Linked DNA regions of Homo sapiens: all the other regions are linked to region 1. The links come from fine-mapping of genetic effects on gene expression. A gene starts in region 1. Each other region holds a variant in brackets. All regions are shown on one strand. Distances are between the middles of the regions. Region 1 holds the start of FAM20A (FAM20A golgi associated secretory pathway pseudokinase). Region 2 has its middle 110 kb from the start of LINC01482. Region 3 holds the start of LINC01482 (long intergenic non-protein coding RNA 1482). Region 4 overlaps FAM20A (FAM20A golgi associated secretory pathway pseudokinase).

The links. PIP is the estimated chance that this variant, and not a neighbour inherited with it, causes the effect. A credible set is the group of variants that fine-mapping cannot tell apart.
Region 2: its variant is the best candidate, but not a certain one, in a credible set for the expression of FAM20A in thyroid (GTEx, PIP 0.63).
Region 3: its variant is the best candidate, but not a certain one, in a credible set for the expression of FAM20A in whole blood (INTERVAL, PIP 0.55).
Region 4: its variant is the best candidate, but not a certain one, in a credible set for the expression of FAM20A in whole blood (INTERVAL, PIP 0.72).

Annotation. Positions count from the first base shown.
Region 1 is chr17:68,598,261-68,603,413 of GRCh38, reverse strand. It overlaps FAM20A (FAM20A golgi associated secretory pathway pseudokinase), which reads left to right and starts at 2,047. Exons shown (of 11, transcript NM_017565.4): 1 at 2,047-3,151. The coding sequence starts at 2,748.
Region 2 is chr17:68,738,163-68,743,315 of GRCh38, reverse strand. No RefSeq gene overlaps it. Among named protein-coding and RNA genes, the nearest start is that of LINC01482, 110 kb to the right of the region's middle. The variant A/T (reference allele first, on the strand shown) is at 3,037.
Region 3 is chr17:68,625,752-68,630,904 of GRCh38, reverse strand. LINC01482 (long intergenic non-protein coding RNA 1482) reads right to left here and starts at 2,751. Exons shown (of 5, transcript NR_110825.1): 1 at 2,719-2,751. RefSeq lists a silencer at 2,443-2,737. The variant G/AAG (reference allele first, on the strand shown) is at 1,918.
Region 4 is chr17:68,571,408-68,576,560 of GRCh38, reverse strand. The region is part of intron 1 of FAM20A (FAM20A golgi associated secretory pathway pseudokinase); the gene reads left to right. Among named protein-coding and RNA genes, the nearest start is that of FAM20A, 27 kb to the left of the region's middle. The variant AGAAGAAAG/G (reference allele first, on the strand shown) is at 3,101.

The DNA of each region.
Region 1 (5,153 bases):
TCCAGCTTCATTCACACTTAATATCTAACTCCCACATGCAGTTCTGCACTTGACTGTGACCTTTAAAGGGCATGGAAAATATGTTTACATAATTTCCAAGCAAGTTACACTATTGTTCCCTAAATTGGGGCCAGAAAAAAAAGAGTCTACTAAGCGAGTATGACCCCATGGGTTGAGGAGAATTGAAGTCACAAGACCTGCAGTGTCACCACATCCACGTCCTTTGCCAGCCGAGAAAAATGCGCATCAGTTTGCCACACAGTTACTGCAGTTACATCACCACCATTCAATGCCTGACTTCTTCATTCGCTTGCCATGACATCTAATTAAACACATTAGAAGTTGCAACGTCTCTCAGAAATTGGAAATCAGTTAAAATTTAATTCCAGATAAAAAGGAGGAGGTTCTAGAACCCCTCAAAATGCCCACCATCATACCCAGAGGAGTGGAGTAGCTGGGAATAGTACCGTCTTGGGCTTTTTCACTTGGACTGGGCACTCAGGCCACAATGTTATGCCCCTGAAAGCAGGTTCCTTCCTGCTATCTTCCTTTTCCATCCTTTTCTATTTTTGTCCTAGCGATGAGCAGTCTCTAACCAAGCCTAGTGTACTACAGGAACTAATAAGTAATCATAATGATAGCAAACACATATTTCACACTTATTTAGGATGAGTTAGGAGCTCTTCTAAGTAATTTATACATAGTCAAGTGCCACATAACATTTTAGTCAATGCAACAGTGGTCCCATAAGATTACAATACTGTATTTTTACTGTATGTTTCCTATGTTTAGACACACAAGTACTCACCACTGTGTTACAACTCCCTACAGCATTCAGTAGTCGCATGCTGTACAGGTTTGTACCTAGGATCAACAGGCTATGCCATGTAGCCTCCGTGTGTAGTAGGCTGAACCATCTAGGTTTGTGTAAGTACACCCTGATGTTCACACACACAGGAAAATTGCCTAAGGATGCATTTCTCAGACGTGACACATAATTGTACTTCAATTCATTTAAGTCTCATAATAACCTTAGGAGGTAGGTTCCATCATTATCTTCATTTACATTTGAGGAGACTGCAAAGTCCCGAAGAAATCTTACACTGAACCACGGGGAAAAGAACTCTGGTCTGAACCCACAAGTCAAAGTATGTCTGAGGGTTCTCAATTCCAGCAAGGGAAGGGAGGGGGTTAAAGAGTAGAACTAACTTACATGGGAAGCTTTGCTGCCTGGGCAAGCAGCTTCTGGTGGATTTCCTGAAATTCAGCAGGGTGGGGCCGCCTCTCCAATCAGACTTCACTTTACTATACTATGGGGTCATTAAATAGAGGAGCCAGGAGTTCAGGACTCCCTCCCTCTTCTTCAAAAGGAAAACTGGGTGTGGGGAGGGTACATTACCTCACAGAATATTGGAGAAAGCCTAAATGTGTCCTCCAGTGATTCATTTGGGTGGACTACTTTCACACCAAGCTAAACTCAAAAGTTCGGAGTGGGGTCATCAGGGCCCCTCCCTCCCTGAGTGCAAGAAACATTTCCTCTTTTTAAAGTACAGGCAGAGTTGGAATCAAACTCCTTCCAAACAGGAAATCAGCAAGATTCTAGGTAAAACTGATACCTTACTTTTAAAGGTCAAGCTCTTTCCTTCACCAAGAGCGTGTTTCCTGAGCACCTACTATGTGCCAGGCATGTGGTAGGTAGTTGTTATGAATCTTGATGTGCCCTGCGCTCTGCAGGGGGGCGGAGGTGGAAGGGAACACAAAGAAAGAACAGATACCAACACTGCCACCCCCGCCTCCCCCCACCCCCCCCCACACACTCATTTGGCAAAGCTTACAGGAAAAAAAGGGTTTTAGGGGGCTTGTGGTGGTTTTTTTTTCCCTAAAAATAATAGAAATGGTAAAAAGAGGCTTCGGACCCCTCGCGTGAGTCCCTTAAAGTGACTGGATTGAGACCTGGGCAGGGAAAGTGGGAGGCCCGAGCGAGGGGGAGGGCGCAGGCAGTGGGTGGGTGACAAGGTGCAAGGGCAGCGCCGGCTTCGGATCGGGAGTTGGCCGTCAGCTGCGCCAGAGGCAGGTGCCAGCGGAGAGTGGGTGGGGGTGCCGGCGCCAGGCCAGGCTCGGGGAGGCCCCGCGCTACCTCTGCCTCTAGGAGTCCAGGCGCACAGACAAGCTCCCCGGAGCCGCTCCTGCTTCGCCAACTCCCCACTCGCGCCGCCCGTGCCAGCCGCCGGCACTGGCGTCTCCGCCGCCCGCAGGAGGAGTCGCGGGAGCACTAGCAGCCGCCGCCGAGCGACAGCATCCTCAGGAGAGACGCCCCGGGCTTTGCAGCCGGCGGCCTCCGTCCGCCCTCCGCGGTCGCCCCCCGCCCCGTCGCCCGTCCGCCCGCGGTGGCAGCCGGCGCCGGCGCCCCGGGGCCCTTCACCTGCCGCGAGCGTCCGGGCGGGCGGGCGCACGGGAGAAAAGGCGCAAGAAGCGGGCACCCCGGGAACCCCATTCCCTCGGCTCACTCGGCGCGGAGAAGCGACGCCCGCTGACTCCGAGAGCCCCGGTGCTCCGTGCACCTGGTCCCCAAGTTGAGGAGCGACACCCCTCCACAGGGGACTAGCCCGCGCGGGGAGCATTCCGGTCTCACTGACCCCGGCCCACCCGCGGGACTCCAGGCACCTCTTCTGCCCGCACCCCGCGACCCCTCCCGGGACCCCGGAGACAGCCGGCCTGCCCCCGGCGTCCCCCTTGGCCAGCACGCCATGCCGGGGCTGCGCCGGGACCGCCTACTGACTCTGCTGCTGCTGGGCGCGCTGCTCTCCGCCGACCTCTACTTCCACCTCTGGCCCCAAGTACAGCGCCAGCTGCGGCCTCGGGAGCGCCCGCGGGGGTGCCCGTGCACCGGCCGCGCCTCCTCCCTGGCGCGGGACTCGGCCGCAGCTGCCTCGGACCCCGGCACGATCGTGCACAACTTTTCCCGAACCGAGCCCCGGACTGAACCGGCTGGCGGCAGCCACAGCGGGTCGAGCTCCAAGTTGCAGGCCCTCTTCGCCCACCCGCTGTACAACGTCCCGGAGGAGCCGCCTCTCCTGGGAGCCGAGGACTCGCTCCTGGCCAGCCAGGAGGCGCTGCGGTATTACCGGAGGAAGGTGGCCCGCTGGAACAGGTGAGGACCCCGCCCGGGACGCGGGAGAGCGGGCGCTCTGGCCGGGGCCTCCCCGCGCCCCAGTCTCGAGTTTCCTGACGCCCCCGGCCCAGGGCTGCAGCGGCTCCACCCACGGCTCCAGCCCTGGCGCTGGGCTTAGAGTGTGTTCCCCACCCGAACCCCACCAGCTGTTGCAGACCTCACAGTCCAGTCCCGGAGTCAGATAGTACGAGGAAAAAGTTTCTATTGCAGCCGCACAGCGAAGAAACGCTCTCAGCCCCTTCCCCTTGAGCGCCTGGGTCGTCGTTGAGCCCCACTCCTGCTCCCTCGTCCACTCCCGCTCCCTCGTCCGCTCCCAAACCCCACTCTCTGTCCTGATGTGGAGGAAAGCTGCCGCTGGACTTCGGGTTTCCAGAATGAGGCCCCAAACAGGGTGACTCCAGAGCTAGTTGAAATTCAGCACTTAACTGTGCTCTTTGGGTAAACCTGGGCGCCTTCCAGAAAGCATGTTTCTCCCCAAAACCCAGTTCTTTCCCTTTCCTTATTCCTCTGCCCAGTTTCAGAGATCACAAGGGGGTCATCTGAGGCAGGAAGTAAATGGTCAGTTCTCTGCCGCAGCCACCCCATTGTTCACATTTAAAACGCGGCTTGGGCCCATCCAGCAAGTATTAGAACTTGAAGGCACTTTTATCGTCTTGTATGATCCTGGTGATTTGGACTGACTTGGATCTGCGGCTTGATGCTTCCACAGACGAGAAAAAAATCTTTCAGGGAATTTTTTAAACCCAAAGCAAAATACAGAGGAAAAAATATCAAATATATTTAGGATAAAATTAAGAATCTTTCTGGAAAAGGATGGGGGTGTTAGGGAAGGCAGCACGCTCATTACTGAGATCCCTTGCTAGTGGCAGGAAGCCTTCGTATGAGTTAAGGACTCTGTTTTGAAGTACAGAACTTGTCTAAATACCACTCACATGCAGAGTTCACTATCGCACCACACCCATCTCTTTACTTAATACAAGAGATTTCAAAGTAAGATGTCATCGGTGGTTTTATGGTCCCTCCAGAGGATGAGCAGACCATAAATCTCTCTTGAAACTCAGAGCTGGGCCAATTTAACTGTTTGCTCATTATTTTGTAATGCTGAGATTGAAGGGAGAAAAAAAAACCTTCAGAAATTTTTGCAAAGGAATAAGTTGAGTTGTTGGCTGAATCACTGTGGTGAATTTCAGTAGTAACTCTACGGCTCACATTTTATGTTAGAAAGAAAGTGATTCTCAATTCCACGTTAACTGTGTGCAGTAATAAAAGGCAGTTTGAGATTGCTTCTCAGACACTGTCATTTTCAATATTATCTTTATTTCGTCAATAACATGGAAGTCTGGCTTAGTGAACCAGGAAATTTTGCCCTTAGAAAAAGTATCTATATGTCTACTATGGATCTGAGAATGAGAGACTTTGGACAAAGTCACTTGCTTTTGTAAATGTGATCAGCATTCATTTAGTCACATTTCTGTGGTCTTAAACTTCCCGGTGTTACTTTGGACCCGAAGCAAAGTCCAGGGGAATATTATGGCAGAAAAGCAAAAATCTTTCTCACCAAACTGTTCTACAATCAGTTTTAAGCTTGATTTCTACACCATTATGTGTCAACAAAGACAAAAAAAACTCGCAAAAACACACATACTTTCTGACCAGAAATGATCTTGGTCATTTAACAGAAGATCAAGTGGGGGCTGGTGACCTTACTATATTCAGAGATCACAGAGTAGTTTTGTGTGGTTGCTCAAATGTGACATTTTCCCAAGTAAGGTTTGTGGGCCACAACAGGAGGACCCGCTGCACTTATAAATGTTAAAACTGGACCTCAGAGGCAGAGAACACTCTCCTTCCACCCAAACTGGATAGTAAATGTTAACATGAACATATTAATAAGCAGATGTGTTGTTACTTATATCAGGGTTAAAAATGAAACACAAGGCCGGGCAGGGTGGCTCACACCTGTAATCGCAACATTTTGGGA
Region 2 (5,153 bases), 140 kb before region 1:
ATACATTCTTTTGGCAGACGAAATGTTTTATTTCTATTGTTTATATATCAAATAATGTAATTGATGGGTAGTAGGGCATGCATATATTCATAGGTTTAATAGATATAGACAAACAGCTTTTCAAAGTGGTTATATAAATTTACACTGACTAGTATTGTATGAACATTCCATTTACTCCAAGTTCTCAACACTGCTTAGTAACCAAAACACAGGGTCAGTCACTCACCACCAGCAGAGTCTAACTAACAAGAGTGAGGTCTGGTATAAAGAAAGTGACTTTTTATTCCTAAAGTAGTATAGGGGAAGTACAGGCTTCCTGCCTTAAGTATCCTTAACGGTACTGCTTCACTTTTGCAGCAGAAAGTGGGTGCTTTTAAAGAGGGAGTCTATGCAGAGGTGGAAATGAACAAGTCGGGGCCTGCATATCACATTGGTGCCTTACCTATCGGGCAGTAGAGTTGGCATTTTCATGGGCAGAAATAGGTTGTAAAGGTGGCTGAAAACTCTCTGGGTGGGAGAGAGTTTTGTAGCAAACATACTTTGGGTTATGAGTTGACTATTATCTCTCAAGGCAGTCTCCTGGTGGGTGAGAGTTCCTCTCTGGAGCTTCTAAGCACATAGTTACATGAACTTGATCTGCAGCAAGTATCTGGTGAGGGGAGGTAAGAGGTTATAATTGCATTTCTAAAGGGCTAAGTAGGAAGTCAGGAATGGGGGAAATAGAGTAAACAGAAATGAAGAGAAAACAATTTTTAAAAATAGTAACTCATTCTCTTTTTTCTTAGAAAAAATAATATTGCCTTTTGTACTAGGTTACACTAATGACAGTTAAATAATAATGTTGCATGTCGTACTAGGTTACGTTTTTGGTTTTTTTAATTTGGGCCATTTGGGTGTCTAATAGTATCTCATGTAGTTTTAATTTGCATTTTCCTGATGACTAATAACGTTGAACATTTTTTCTTTGTTGAATGTCCAGTTAAATAGTCTCTTTGGGAAGTAATTTGTTTACCCTTTTTTTTGAGTTTTTTTCCTTAATGATTTGTAGAAATTCTTTATAGATACTAGATATAAGTCCTTTGTTAGATATATATTTCAAATTTCTTTTCCCAGTAAATGAGTTTTCTCTTTTATTATAGCATCTTTTGAAAAACAGCAATATTTTATTTTCATGAAGTCCAATTTATCAAATATTCTTTCCTTTCGTTTATTGTGAATCCTGTTTAAAAACTACTATCCACCCTAAGTTTAAGTATTTTCTCTTTTTTATAGAAGTTTATTGTTTTACCTTTTATATTTTCTAGAACTGATTTTCCTATTTGGTGTGAGTAAGCAATCGAGATTATTATTCCCATGTGAATATCTAATTGATTCAGCAACATTTATTAAAAATGTCATCTGTCTGTGATGCTGTAACGTCGTTGTAAATTAGGTGACTGTATATGTATGGAATTGTTTTTGCACACTCTTCTCCTCTACCATTGGTATACCCTTAAATCAATAACATTCTTCTATATTTACTGTAACCTCATAATAATATTATCTGTAGTGTAGAGCCTCCAACTCTATTCTTCAAGATCATCTTTAACATGGTTGGTCACTTGCTTGTCTATATAAATTTTAAAATTAGTTTGTCAATTTAAAAAAAACTTCAAAGATTTGATAGGATATTGGATGTATAAGTTGGTTTGGTGAGCATTACCATCTTTACAATATTTAATCTATGACTATAATATGTTTTTCCATTTATTTAGAGTATTACTAATTTCTCTTGAAAATTGTAGTGTGTTAGAATTGTGGGTCCCCCAGCCCAAAAGATATTTCCACCCAAAACCTGTGAATGGGACTTTGAAACAGGAGAGTTCCCTGATCGCCCTCACAAGACATATAACAGGGGTGTGGCTCCCCTCTTTGGTCTCTGCCACTGCTCACACCCCTGACAGGAGCAGGAGCACACAAACAGGTAGGTGCAAGAGCCGGGGTGAGTGCTTTGGGCTCTGGCCCCATGGTGGCATCTAGGGGTGGGTGTCTGAGGCCCCAGTGTTACAGTGCTCTTATAGCCTTGCCATCCACAGATGGCTTAAGTGTTAACCAGCTCAATGGACACCTCTGCCTTTTCACAAGGGCAGAGGGCCAATGTGACAGCTTTCTTTATCCTCAGCTCTTGCCCAGCATCCCAGAAGAATCAGGTCACACATAGGCTTGAGGGATGAACATGGAGTTTTACTGAGTGCTGGAGGTGGCTGTCAGTGAGTTGGATAGGGAGCTGGAAGGGGGATGGAGTGGGAAGTTGATCTTCTCCTGGAGTTTGGCCATCTAGTGGCCAAACTCTTCTTCAACCAAACCCAGCCGGACTCCTCTCAGTGTTTAGACGTTCCTTCTCTTCTCTGCTTCTCTGTCATGCCATTCCACCATTCATCTGCTTGTCTCCTCATCTCCTTGTCTCCTCATCTGCTCATCTGTCTGCTTGTCTGCTTGTGGAGCCTGGGATTCGGAGTTTATATGGGTACAGGATAGGGCGTGTGGAGGGCCAAAAGGCAACTTTTTGGGTGTGAAAACAGAAATGCCTGTTCCCACTTAGGGCCACGGGTCTCCAGGCTTGAGGGTTGTGCCTTTGCCAGGGAACCACCCTCTTCTACCCAGTGTTTCCCTTTCTCCTGTTCATGTCATACTTATCAGGAAAAGAGTCTTTGTAGATATAACTAATGTTAAGGATCTTGACATTTAAAATTTTTCGAGATCATCCTGGGTCTAGCATAAGTCTTAAATCTAATGTCAGGTGTCCTGATAAGAGAAAAGCAGGAGATTTCTCTCACACACACACACACACACACACACACACACACACACACACACACACACACACACATACGGGAGAAGGCTATGTGAAGATGGAGGAAGAGATTAAAGTCATGCAACCAAGGAATGCCCGGAGCCACCAGAAGCTGGAAGAGGCAGGGAAAGAGTTCCCCCTGGAGACTCCAGAAGGTGGATGTCCCTGCCAACATGTTGGCTCAGACTTCTGACCTCCATAAC[A/T]GTAAGAGAATAAATTTCTATTGTTTTAAGGCACTAATTTGTGCCTTAAAAGGCACTAATTTGTGGTAATTTGTTACAGCAGACCTATGAAACTAATACAATAATTTTTATGGTGTTCTATGCAAAGATAATAAAATCTCGTTTAGACATATTTCTAGATTTTTTAAGTTATTGGTGTGACTGTAAGAGGTGTCATTTAAAATTTTTCATTTGTAATTATTGGTACTGTATAAAAATACAGTTGATTTTTCTATGTTGACCTTTTATCCATCAACCTTGCTAAATTTACTTATTAATTCTAATTGTTTGCTAGTAGATTCTTTTGAATTTTGTACATGCACAAATAGTGTTTATATATGTGGCTTCCTCAAATAGTAATTGTTTCATTTATTCATCTGCCATTTTTAAAGGCTTTTTTTTTTCATTGCTTTATTGCACTGACCTTCTATGCCATACTGAAAATAGGTGGTATTTGTAAGCATCCTTATCTTGCCCCTGATCTCAGCGGGAAAGCTTTCAATATTTCACCATTAAGCAGGATGTTTGCTATAAGTCCTTTATAAATAACCTTTATCAAATTTAAAAAGTTCCCTTTGTTTCCTAGTTTGTAAGGTGATTTTTTATCATGAATAGGTGTTGAATTTTATCAAATATTCTTTCTGCATCCAATGAGATTATTATGTTTTTTAGTCTTTATTCTGTTAACATGGTGACTTACATTATTTGATTATCAAATGCTAAACCAAATTTGCATTCCAGGAGGCAAATTTGCATGATGTGTTACCTTATACGTCACTGGGTGTGATTTGCTAGTATAATGTTTAAATTTTTACATATTTTTGTAAGAGAGATTGGCCTATAGTTTTCCTTTCTAGCCAAGTTTTTGGTATCATTCTTTTACAAAATGAAAATGAATAACCTCCAATTTTTTTAATCTACAAAATTCTTTCTCAAAATGTCTATATTTCATCTTCACTTATTAAGGGATAGTTTTTCTGGGTGTAGTTTTCTATATTAGCACCTTTTTCCTTCGGCACTTTAAACTTATCATTTTATTATCTTCTGGCTTCTATAGTTTATGTTGAAAGACAGCTTTTGGCCATATAATTTCTCCTTTGAATATAATATGTCTTTTTTCTCCAGCTGCTTCTAACATTTTTTTACTTTCTTGGTCTTTCTGCAATTTTAATAGGTTGGGCTGTCTTTACATTTACTTCGCTTAGTGTAAGAGATTCTTCAATTTGTGAATTGATGCCTTTTGTCAACTTGGAAATTATCAACCAGCATCTTTTCAAATACTGTTTCTCCCTAACACCATTTCTCCTCTTTTTCTGGCACTCCAATTACACATGCTAGCCAATTTCAGAAATTTTCATAGGCTTCTTATACTTTTTCTATATTTTCCATTCTTTATTTTAGTATCTGTGCTCCAATCTGGGTATTTTAAAAGAGAATTTACTAGCCATTTCTTCTTCTGTGTCTAATCTGCTATTAAATCCATTTATTAAATTCTTCATTTCTTATGTTATTTTTTAACCTATAAATTTCTACGTCTTTTTATCCACAATAAAATCATTTCCAATTCTCTAGTGAAATTCTCTATATGTTCATTTGTTTTTTAACATATTTATAATATTTATTTTAAAGTCTGTGTCTCACTACTGTCTGTTTTTCCTCTTAGGACTGGGTTGATTGGCCGTGCTTCCTGGTATATCAGGTCATTTTAATTGACTGTCAGACATTGTATGTAAAAACTACAGTGGTTCTAGGTGATGTTATCTTTCTCCAGAGATGATTAATTTTCTTCTGGCAAGCAAATATGGTTAGTCTCATCACCTTGATCCAACAAGGGATGAAAATCATGTGTTTTCATCCAACAACGGATGAAAGCTCTGTTTCAGGCTTTGTGAGAGCTGGTCAATTTCTGGTCACCTTAATCCTAGTGCATAGCACCTGATGAGGCTCAACTAAAAGCCTAGGATGTTCGCCAGGCCCCTCCTCCTTGGCAAGCTCTGAATTTCAATGTTTGTCTCTCCAGCAGTGAGACTGCTGAAACCTCTGCTTAGCTTTTTATCTTCTAAGCTACTATTTTCTGCTTGTTTTTTTAGATCAGCGCT
Region 3 (5,153 bases), 27 kb before region 1:
ACTTATTGAGAAGACTTTTGTACTTATATTTAGTGACTGTCATAGAATTACTCTTGTGTCTTCATGAGAAAGAGAATATAAGAGAAAGAAAAATTCAGTCTGAATGTTCACATTGCATGCCTATATCAAAGTATCTCATGCATCCCACAAATATAGATGCCTACCATGTACCCACAAAAATTAAAAATTAAAACAAATTTAGTTCTGCCTGGCTGACAGTAACTGCAAGATGCATTTCTAATTTCAGAGATGTTAAAATATGAAAAATAGGCATCTTTAAGGAATGATATATAACATTTTTTTAAACTTCCCAACAGCCCTGCGAAACAATGATTGTTTTTACAGAAGAGGATGCCAAAATTTAATTAGATAAAATTGCTTCCTTAAAGTCACACATCTAGTTAAGACAGAACAGATACTTGGCTCCAGGTTCCTCTGACTCTACAACCAAAGCACATAACTCCTGCATGTTCCTGCCTCTCAGGTCAGTATGGTTATCCTCATTGCCGGCATCACTGACACCCTTATCAACATTGTCACAGACACAACCATCGCTGTTGTCACCACTATCATTCCTGTCACCACTATAATTACCATGGTTTTATCATTGTCACTGCCACCATAATTGTTGTTGTCAACATCATCATCATCATAGCTAATATTTACTGAGCATGTACTATGTGCTAAGCTCTGTGCTAAGGGCTTTACATGGTTTGCCTCATAACTACCCTATAGGTAGGTTTATCATTACCCTATTCTACAAATATTAATAGTGAGGCTCAATAAGATTAACTAATTTGTTCTAAGTTATTCAGCTGAGGTCTGAATAGCAGGGTTGAATTCAAATCCACTGACTATAGAAACCACACGCAGTATCTGACTATAGAAACTACTACAAGCCGGGCGCTGTGGCTCATGCCTGTAATCCCGGCACTTTAGGAGGCCGAAGCGGGTGGATCACATACGCTCAGGAGTTCGAGATCAGCCTGGGCAACATGATGAAACCCTGTCTCTACAAAAAAATACAAAAACTAGCCAGGCATAGTGATGTGTGCCTGTGGTCTCAGCTACCCAGAGGGCTGACATAGGAGGACAGCTTAAGCCCAGGAGGCAGGGAGGGATTGCAGTGAGCAGAGATCACACCACTGCACTCCCACCTGGGTAATAGAGCGAGACTCTGTCTCAAAAAACAAGAAAAGAAAAGGAAGTACTACTGTGTACGCTATTAAATACAGTATACAGCAAATCATAGGGCCTCAGTAAGTGATGTATATACTTGTGCCTAACCCAGTGACTGGCATATAGGCAATAAACAATTACAAAAGCACCACCAATGATCGAAGCTAATGTTCATTGAGCAATTACTATGTGCCAGTCATGATGTTAAATGCTTCACAGTTTATTGCTGTTAGTCCTCATATTACCCTTATGAGGTAGGTACAATTTTTATCCTCAGTTTACAGGTGGGGACATTGAAGGGTAGAGAAATTAAGAAAGTGTTCAAGGTTGCACTATCAGTGAATGACCCAGCCATAGTTCAAACCCAAACAGTGTCATTTAAAAGCCCATGTTTTTGATTACCATACAATATTGTCTCCTACAAGAAATGTTATGAGCGAATTTGTTTTCATTGATTCACCCCACAAATATTGTCTGAGTACATACCATAGGTCATGTGTTTGCCAAGTGCTATAGATATAATACAGAATAAAAAAAAAGATAGACCTTTCCTCCATGGAAATTACAGTGTGGAGAAAGTACCAATAAAAACAAAAGCTACGAAGACCATGTAGATACAGGGATGTTCAATCTTTTGGCTTCCCTGGGCCACATTGGAAGAAGAAGAATTGTCTTGGACTACACATAAACTACACTAACACTAACATTACTTGATGAGCTACTGAAAAAAAAAAAAAA[G/AAG]TCCATGCACAAATCTCGTAATGTTTTAAGAATGTTTATGAATTTTGTGTTGGGCTGCATTCAAAGCCATCCTGGGCCACATGTGGCCTGTGGGCTGCAGGTTGGACAAGTTGATGTAGAAAGATGGCGATATTAATAGAACACTCATATTTACATCCTACCCTTCCCAAAACTCCACTAAGAAGATGCTGAGATGGTAATGATGATGACTAATATTTATTGAATGTTCTCTGGGTGCCAGACGTTAATCTGGGCACTTTACATGTGTTGTCACTTTCCAACCTTATAACAATCCATTTTACAATTGAAGAATCTAAGGCAAAGAGAGGTTAAATAACTTGTCCAAAGTCACATAGTTAGTATGCGGCAAAGCAAGTGTAAGAATCTAAAGCTTGTGCTTTAATGCATCTCTTTCCACAGTAAAGGAGAAAAAAATACATAAATTCTCACAAACAGAGACATCAGGACAAGAGATGTCCTGAATGGGAAAGATAAACAGTTTTGAGGAAGGAGAAACAGGGCAGAGGGAGTAACTTCTTTAGCAGGGCAGAGAAAGCTGTGAATAAAAGCAGAGGGCTGAGAATAGACCTGCCTCTCCCCACCACAGAGAGTCAGAGAAACTCATAAGCTGGGGACATCTGATATCACAGAGTGTAGGAGGGGGACACAAGAGCAACCCTGGAGGCTAAGATGGAATTCAGTATTTATAACAGTCAGCACCTTCACCTACTCCCACACACAGAGTGCCAGAAACCAGGAACTGACCCTCCACCCCAAGGAGAGGTTGGCAGGGAGACTTACCAGCTTCCCGTATCTCCCTCCACATGGAGGCAGGACACGCTCTGGCCTTGCCCACCCTCCCACTAGCCTCTCCCACAGGGCAGTAAAGGTGAGTCTGGGAGAAAGAACCGGTCAGACTTAGTTCAGCTCCACCCTTTCCTCCTGGGAGTGAGTCTTTCCAAGACAGAGCATGTTTTTTTCTACCCCTCAGTGAGAACAGTCGTACCATGGGAGGAGTCCTGTCCCAGTTCAGCATTGCCCGTGATTGGCTGCCTAAGTTTCCCAGTTCTGGGGTTGAGTTTGCAGGCCCACTGGACTCTTAGACTAAACTGCATCCTCTACCTGACTCTTCAATTGTTTAATAAAAGTGGTTTCTTGGTCTTTCATCTGCCTTACCTCTTTTCCCACATTATTTCTCAATATGCCAAAGTTTGGGTTAATTTTTTAAAAAGGAGAGACAAAGGGAGGAAGAAAGAGAAAGACAGAGCCAGAAAGGGAGAAAAGAAAGAAAGAAAGAGAGAGAAAGAGAAAGAGAAAGGGAAAGGAAAGGAAGGGATTTGTGCTAAATGTCATCCTTGGAGAGATATGAGAAGATAATGCATCCATAAAACAACCTTAACATAACATCCTTGGAAAGATATGAGAAGATAATGTATCCATAAAACAAGAATTTATTAATCAGTGAGGAAAGAAGAGCTCTTAATAAATAAAGCTAGAGCACGCAAAGTAAAAATTTCTATGGAACTTTATCTTTCCATGAATATAAAGTTCATCCCAGTTTCCTTCCCACAAAGATAGCAAATAGAGATCAGGAAATAAAAATTATGGGCAAAAGCAAGACATGAGAGAAAGGATTAACCCAGAAAACCTAACAGTCAAATAACAGGAATAGAAGTTTCCGTTCCAGACAAACAGAAAACAGGTAAAGAAAAATACACACACACACACACACACACACACACACACATTTATACACATACATACAGGAGTAAAAGCTAGCAGCCTGTAGACTGAAAGAATATACAAGGAAGCCAGCATCAGAAGGAAAAATAGAGCTAAATTATCACAGAACTTTACAAATCATGAATAAATAAAAGATCTTAAAAAGATCTTAGAGGCCAAGCGTGGTGGCTCATGCCTGTAATCCCAGCACTTTGGGAGGCTGAGGTGGGTGGATCACGAGGTCAGGAGTTTGAGACCAACCTGACCAACATGGTGAAACCCCGTCTCTACTAAAAATACAAAAATTAGCCAGGTGTGATGGCACATGCCTGTAATCCCAGCTACTCAGGAGGCTGAGGCAAGAGAATTGCTTGAATCCAGGAGGTGGAGGTTGCAGTGAGCCAAGATTGCGCCACGGAACTCCAGCCTGGGCGACAGAGCAAGACTCTGTCGCAAAAAAAAAATAATAATAATAATTTAGAGGGAAAAAATGGTGGAGGAAATGCTAAAGTCAGACTTCTCAGCCTCAATATTGAAGAGGATCTTTACAAAGTATTATGAAACTATTACCAAGACACATTGCTCACTGAAAAGCGCAAGGTGCAGAACAATGCACTTAGTGTGCTACCAAGTGTGTTAAAAGAGAAAAAACAAAGAGAAGAGAAAACAAGGGAAGAGAGATGCTTGAGTGTGCGCAGACTATTCCCGGAAGTATATAAAAACTGGTAGAAATAATACATGGACATGTACTATTCGAAGTTTTTTGTCATGGATTGGGGGCCAGGCGCGGTGGCTCACGCCTGTAATCCCAGCACTTTGGGAGGCTGAGGCGGGCAGATCACGAGGTCAGGAGATTGAGACCATCCTGGCTAACATGGTGAAACCCCGTCTCTACTAAAAAAAAAAAAAAAATCACACACACAGAAAAATGGATGGGATAAAGATGGCATACAACCTTGGACTATGTCCACGATAAAACATCCAGGAGCCTGGCGCGGTGGCTCATGCCTGTTATACTAGCACCTTGGAAGGCCGAGGCGGGTGGATCGCTTCAGCTCAGGAGTTCAAAACCAGCCTGGGCAACATGGTGAAACCCTGTCTCTGCAAAAAAATACAAAAATTAGCCAGGCATGGTGGTGAGCACCTGTAGTCCCAGCTACTCAGAAGGCTGAGATGGGAGAATGACTTGAGCGTGGGAGGCAGAGGTTGCAGTGAGCCATAATTAAGCCACTGAACTCCAACCTGGTGACAGAGTGAGACCCTGTCTCAAAAAAAAAAAAATTAGGAAAAAATACATTATATAAAATTTGTGTATGTGATGATTACAACTACCATAGTGTCACTGATTGTAAGATGCACATTTTGTTCACACATCTCTGAAATTATGCTATGTATTAAAATCAACAGTGCGCTATCCATCTTATGACAGATCATATTGGCAGATCATATTGGCAGGAGTGTTTCTTATTTGGGGAACATAAAATAAAAGGTATCTTACCATTAATGGCATCTTA
Region 4 (5,153 bases), 27 kb after region 1:
TCTCCCTGGGGAGGAGGCTGGGACAGTCAGAAGGGAGCCTTGGGCTCAGGGCTGCAGCATGAGGAGCCAGGAGGTGCCAGATGGACCATGATGCAGTCAGCACGTAGGGTCATGATGAAGAGCTTGGCCTAGGAAGCCAGTCGGCCAGGTCCAAATCACTGCACTGTGCCTGCCACTCACCAGGCAGGTGACCTTGAGCTAGCTCAAGTCAGTCTCCTCATCTATAAAATGGGCTAACAATGGACCTGTCTTATGGGGCTGTTGTGAAGAGTCATGAGCCAGCACATGTGAAGTCTTCATAAAAGGTGCTGGCAGAGAGCCATGGCTCCAGAAATGGTGACAATTATTACATGTGAGGTGTGGGGGATTGAAGCAAAGAGTGCTTGAGGCAGGTATGGGGGCAGGGTCTAGAGAGCCAGAGAGGACCATGGCACTACGAATTTGGAGCTGGCTGAGCACTGGGCTTTTGTACTCTTATGGGAGCTTGTTCCATTGGCTGGCCAGACCCATTTAAAGGGCTCAGCATGCAGCCAAGTTTCAGAATTCGGGATGAGATGAAGAAGCAAGAACCTCTCTCCAGCCTAACACCATCCACTTCCCCAGGGTTAGCTCCTGGGCAAGGGAAAGGCCATTCTTAGGGGGCGCCCTTTGGACTTGGTTCTCAGAAACAGCAGTGCCTAAACATCACGCCCTGCCCGGTGGCAGCTGTAACTGCCAATGGCTGATTATGTGTGTGTGTGTGTGTGTGTGTGTGTGTGTGTGTGTGTGTATAATATAAAATATACAATATATAAAATATAAAATATATATAATATATAAAATATATAATATATAAAATATAAAATATATAATATATAATATATATAATATAAAATATAAAAATATAATATATAAATATAAAATATATATAAAATATAATATTCTATATTATATTTTATATATAATATAGAATATATTATATATAATGTATAAAATATAGAATATATTATATAATATATAAAATATATATTATATAATATATAAAATATATATTATATAATATATAAAATATATAATATCTAATATCTATAATATATAATATATAAAATATATTATATATAATATATAAAATATATAATATATAAAATATATAATATATATAAAGTGAAGACATATATATATAAAATATATATATATATGTAAAGTAAAGTGAACCTGTGTTGGCCAGGTTGGTCTTGAACTCTTGGCCTCAGGCAATCCTCCTGCCTTGGACTCTCAAAGTGCTAAGATTACAGGCATGAGCCACTGTGCCTGGCCTGCTTGTATATTTGTAAAAGCCACCAGAACACATTATTACAAACTGACTGGCCTAAAACAACATAAATTTATTGTCTTACATTTCTGGAGGCCAGAAGTCCAAGCTCAAGATGTATGCAAGGCTGTGTCCCCTCCTGAGGCTCTAGGCGAGAATCCATTTCTTATCTCTTTCAGCTTCTGGTGACTCCAGGAATTTCTTTTTTAAAAAAATATTGATACATAATAGTTGTACCTATCGACTAGTGGCCACCTCATGCCAGTCTCTGCCTCTGTGGTCACATTGCCTCATCCTCTTTTCTCTGTCTTCTTGTCTATGTGTCTGTTTTATAAGGGTTCTTGTAATTACATGTAGGGCCCACCCAAATAACCCAGGATCATCTCTCCATCTCAAGATTCTTACTTTAATCATATCTGCCAGCCCATCTGGACACATAGGGTATGTACAAGCCCAGAGATTAAGACGCAGATCTCTTTGGGGGCACCATTATTCAGCCTACCCCAGGGACCATCCTAGGGAATGCCAAATAGAGCTCTTGACTTCACCTTGGTAAGCAGAACTCAGGTAACTGGGAAATTAAGCAGAAGTTGGAAATAATTCTTCACAGTATTCCTTCCCCTTTGTAAAGGATAAAGTTACCAGTACTGAGTCCCAGAAGTCACAGTAACAATAACTCACATGATGTTACGGTTTGAATGCTTGTCTTCTCCAAAATTCATGTTAAAACTTAATCTCCAATGTGGCAATGTTGAGAAGTGGGGTCCTTAAGAGGTGATTGAGTTATGAGGGCTCTACTGTCATGAATGGATTAACTCATTTATGGATCCATGGATTAACAGATTAACGGGTTATCGTGGGAGTGGGTCTCATGGTGCTATAAGAAGAGGAAAGGAAACCGGAGCTAGCACACTCAGCCCCCTCGCCATGTGATGCCCTGCACCACCTCAGAACTCTGCAGAGGATCGCTTAGGCCTAGGAGTTTGAGACCAGCCTGGGCAACATAGGGAGATCCTGTCTCTATAAAAATAAACAAAATTAGCCGGGCATGGTGGCACACGCCTGTGGTCCCAGTTACTTGGGAGGCTGAGGTGGGAGGATCACTTGGGCCTAGAAGGTTGAGGCTGCAATGAGCCATGATAGCTCCACTGCAGTACAGCCTGAGTGACAGAGTGAGACCCTGTCTCAAAAAAAAGAACTCTAGAGAGAGTTCCCACCACCAAGAAGGGTCTCATCAGATATGCCCCTCAACCTTGGACTTCCCAGCCTCTAAAACTGTAAGAAATAAATGTGGTCAGGTGTGGTGGCTCACACCTGTAATCCTAGCACTTTGGGAGGCTGAGGCAGGCGGATCACCTGAGGTCAGAAGTTCAAGACCAGCCTGGCCAACATGGTGAAACTCTGTGTCTACTAAAAATACCAAAAAAATTAGCTGGGCTGGGCATGGTGGCTGGCACCTGTATTCCCAGCTACTTGGGAGGCTGAATCACTTCAACCCAGGAGGCAGAGGTTGCAGTGAGCCAAGATCACACCACTGCACTCCAGCTTGGGCGACAAGAGCTTAACTCTGTTGAAAGAAAAAAAAAGAGAAAAGAAAGAAAGAAAAGAAAGGAAGAAAGGAAGAAAGAAAGGAGGGAAGGAGGGAGGGAAGGAAGGAAGAAAAGAGAGAGAAAGAAAGGAAAGAAAGGAAGGAAAGAAGGAAAAGAGAAAGAGAGGGAAAGAAAGGAAAGAAAGGAAGGAAGGAAGGAAAGAAGGAAAAGAGAAAGAGAGAGAAAGAAAGGAAAGAAAGAAAGAGAAAGAAAGAAAGAA[AGAAGAAAG/G]AAAGAAAGAAAGAAAGAGAAAGGAAAGAAAGGGAAAGGGAGAAGTGTTATTTCTTATAAATTGCCCAGTTTCAAGTATTTTGTTATAAAGCAACAAAAAACAGGCTAAGAAACATAAACTTTAATTCATTTAATCCTCACTAAAATTCTATAAGGTGGGTACATTTATTATCCTGACTTTTCACATGAGGTGAGGCGCAGAGAGGTTAGATAACTTGCCCTAGGTCACACAGCTGTGAGTGGCAGAGCCAGGACTCGGGATGAGGGATCTGCCTCTCCCACCCTTTCCCCTTTCTAGATTCACAAACCCATCACTAATGGTGACTCTGATTTACAGATACAGCAGCATTTACCACCTATCACCTGCTCCTTAAAATCAAGCTTTGATTCATGAGCTAGCTGAAGCAGATAATCTTTCAGGGCTGGAAGGACAGCCTCCAAAGCGGGGGTGCATTTCTCTTTGGGGAGGTGACATGAGAAGGAATTGGGAGCTCACTTTGGGGTCTAGCAGATCACTGCAGCTCCGGCCCACTCACATTGCCTCAGAGCTTTGTTTGGACTTCCCTTGGCCTCTAGGACACAGAGATAAATGGGCGAGGAGGCAGATGAACAGAAAGGGAAGCAATGAGAAATATGTTTTTTGAGCCCATGAGATGGAGCGGTGGGAAGAAGTCAGTCAACAATTCTTAAAACAAAAATAAATAAATAAATAAATAAAATTAAAAAGAAAACAGAAACAATTCTTCAGCCTGCTTATGACAACCCATAGAATTCTGATGATGAGTCAGCTCGTTCTGCTGAAGATGCATTTTGGGGAGAGTTGATCGTTCTGCATAATTCTATCATGAACACAGGCAGCCGGCACAAACGCAGTGCTGAGGTTTCAGAAATGAAGCCCATTCCAACAGTGAACACCAAAAAGCCATTTCCAAAAGCCCATGCCCTTCTTGGCCCAGTTACTACTACTCAGTGTTACTGCTCTGATGGTCTCATACTCAGAAACTGGTTAGAAGAATCAAGAAAGTCCATTGGATAAGGACCCAGACTTAATGTCTCTGAAAGTGCTCAACAAATACGCCTGGATTGTGAATTGCACAATTGCCTGTCAGAGGCAGATTTACCATGAAGCTGATGAAGCCTCAGCCCACTTCCCCTCACTTCCCCTGTGGGTGCTGAATGCTGTGGAGTTGAGAAGGGAGCCAGGTTATGATCAAGAAATATTTCTACATACAGCTGGGCACTGTGGCTTACACCTGTAATCCCAGTACTTTGGGAAGTCAAGGCAGGTGAATGGCTTGAGCCCAGGAGTCCAAGACCAGCCTGGGCAACATGGAAAAACCCTGTCTCTACAAAGAAATAAAAATAAAAATAATAGCCAGTTGTAGTGGAATGCACCTATATTCCCTGCTACATATATATATATATATATATATATATATATATATATATATATATATATATATATGTATGTATATACACACACATATATATACACACACACACATATATATATTTCTACATAAGTTTGATATCTCAGAAAAAAGCCTTCAAGTCACCAGTAATTTATTGATTCTTTTTCATTCTAAATAAACCTTTACTCTCATACCTGGTTTTGTATTCGTAATTTTGTACTCTTTTGCTTAAAGATGGTCCTCCAAATTGTATTAGCTTCAGGTCTCACAAAACCTGAATCCTTCCGTGTCACAGGAGAAATAGAACAGTATGAAGGAGGATTCTTCCAAATTCATCACAGCCATGGGGAAAAAAAAGAAAAACAACCTTGAGAAAATGTTCTTTCTAGGACCCACGTCAAGGATAAGAACACTGAAAGAGACATATGGATCAAACAGATGCAAGATTTAATTTAAAAGCCGAGTGCTATAGAAGTTCACTATAATGCTTTTCTAATTGTCTGTGTGACAGAGTGCTCTTGGAAATGTATTAAATGAGTGAGACCAACCTTATGAACTCCATGGATAGAATTCAAGTGCAATTCCTGTGTCCAAGGGATTTTCTTCCTCAAGTTTTGATACTAGTGTTTTGGA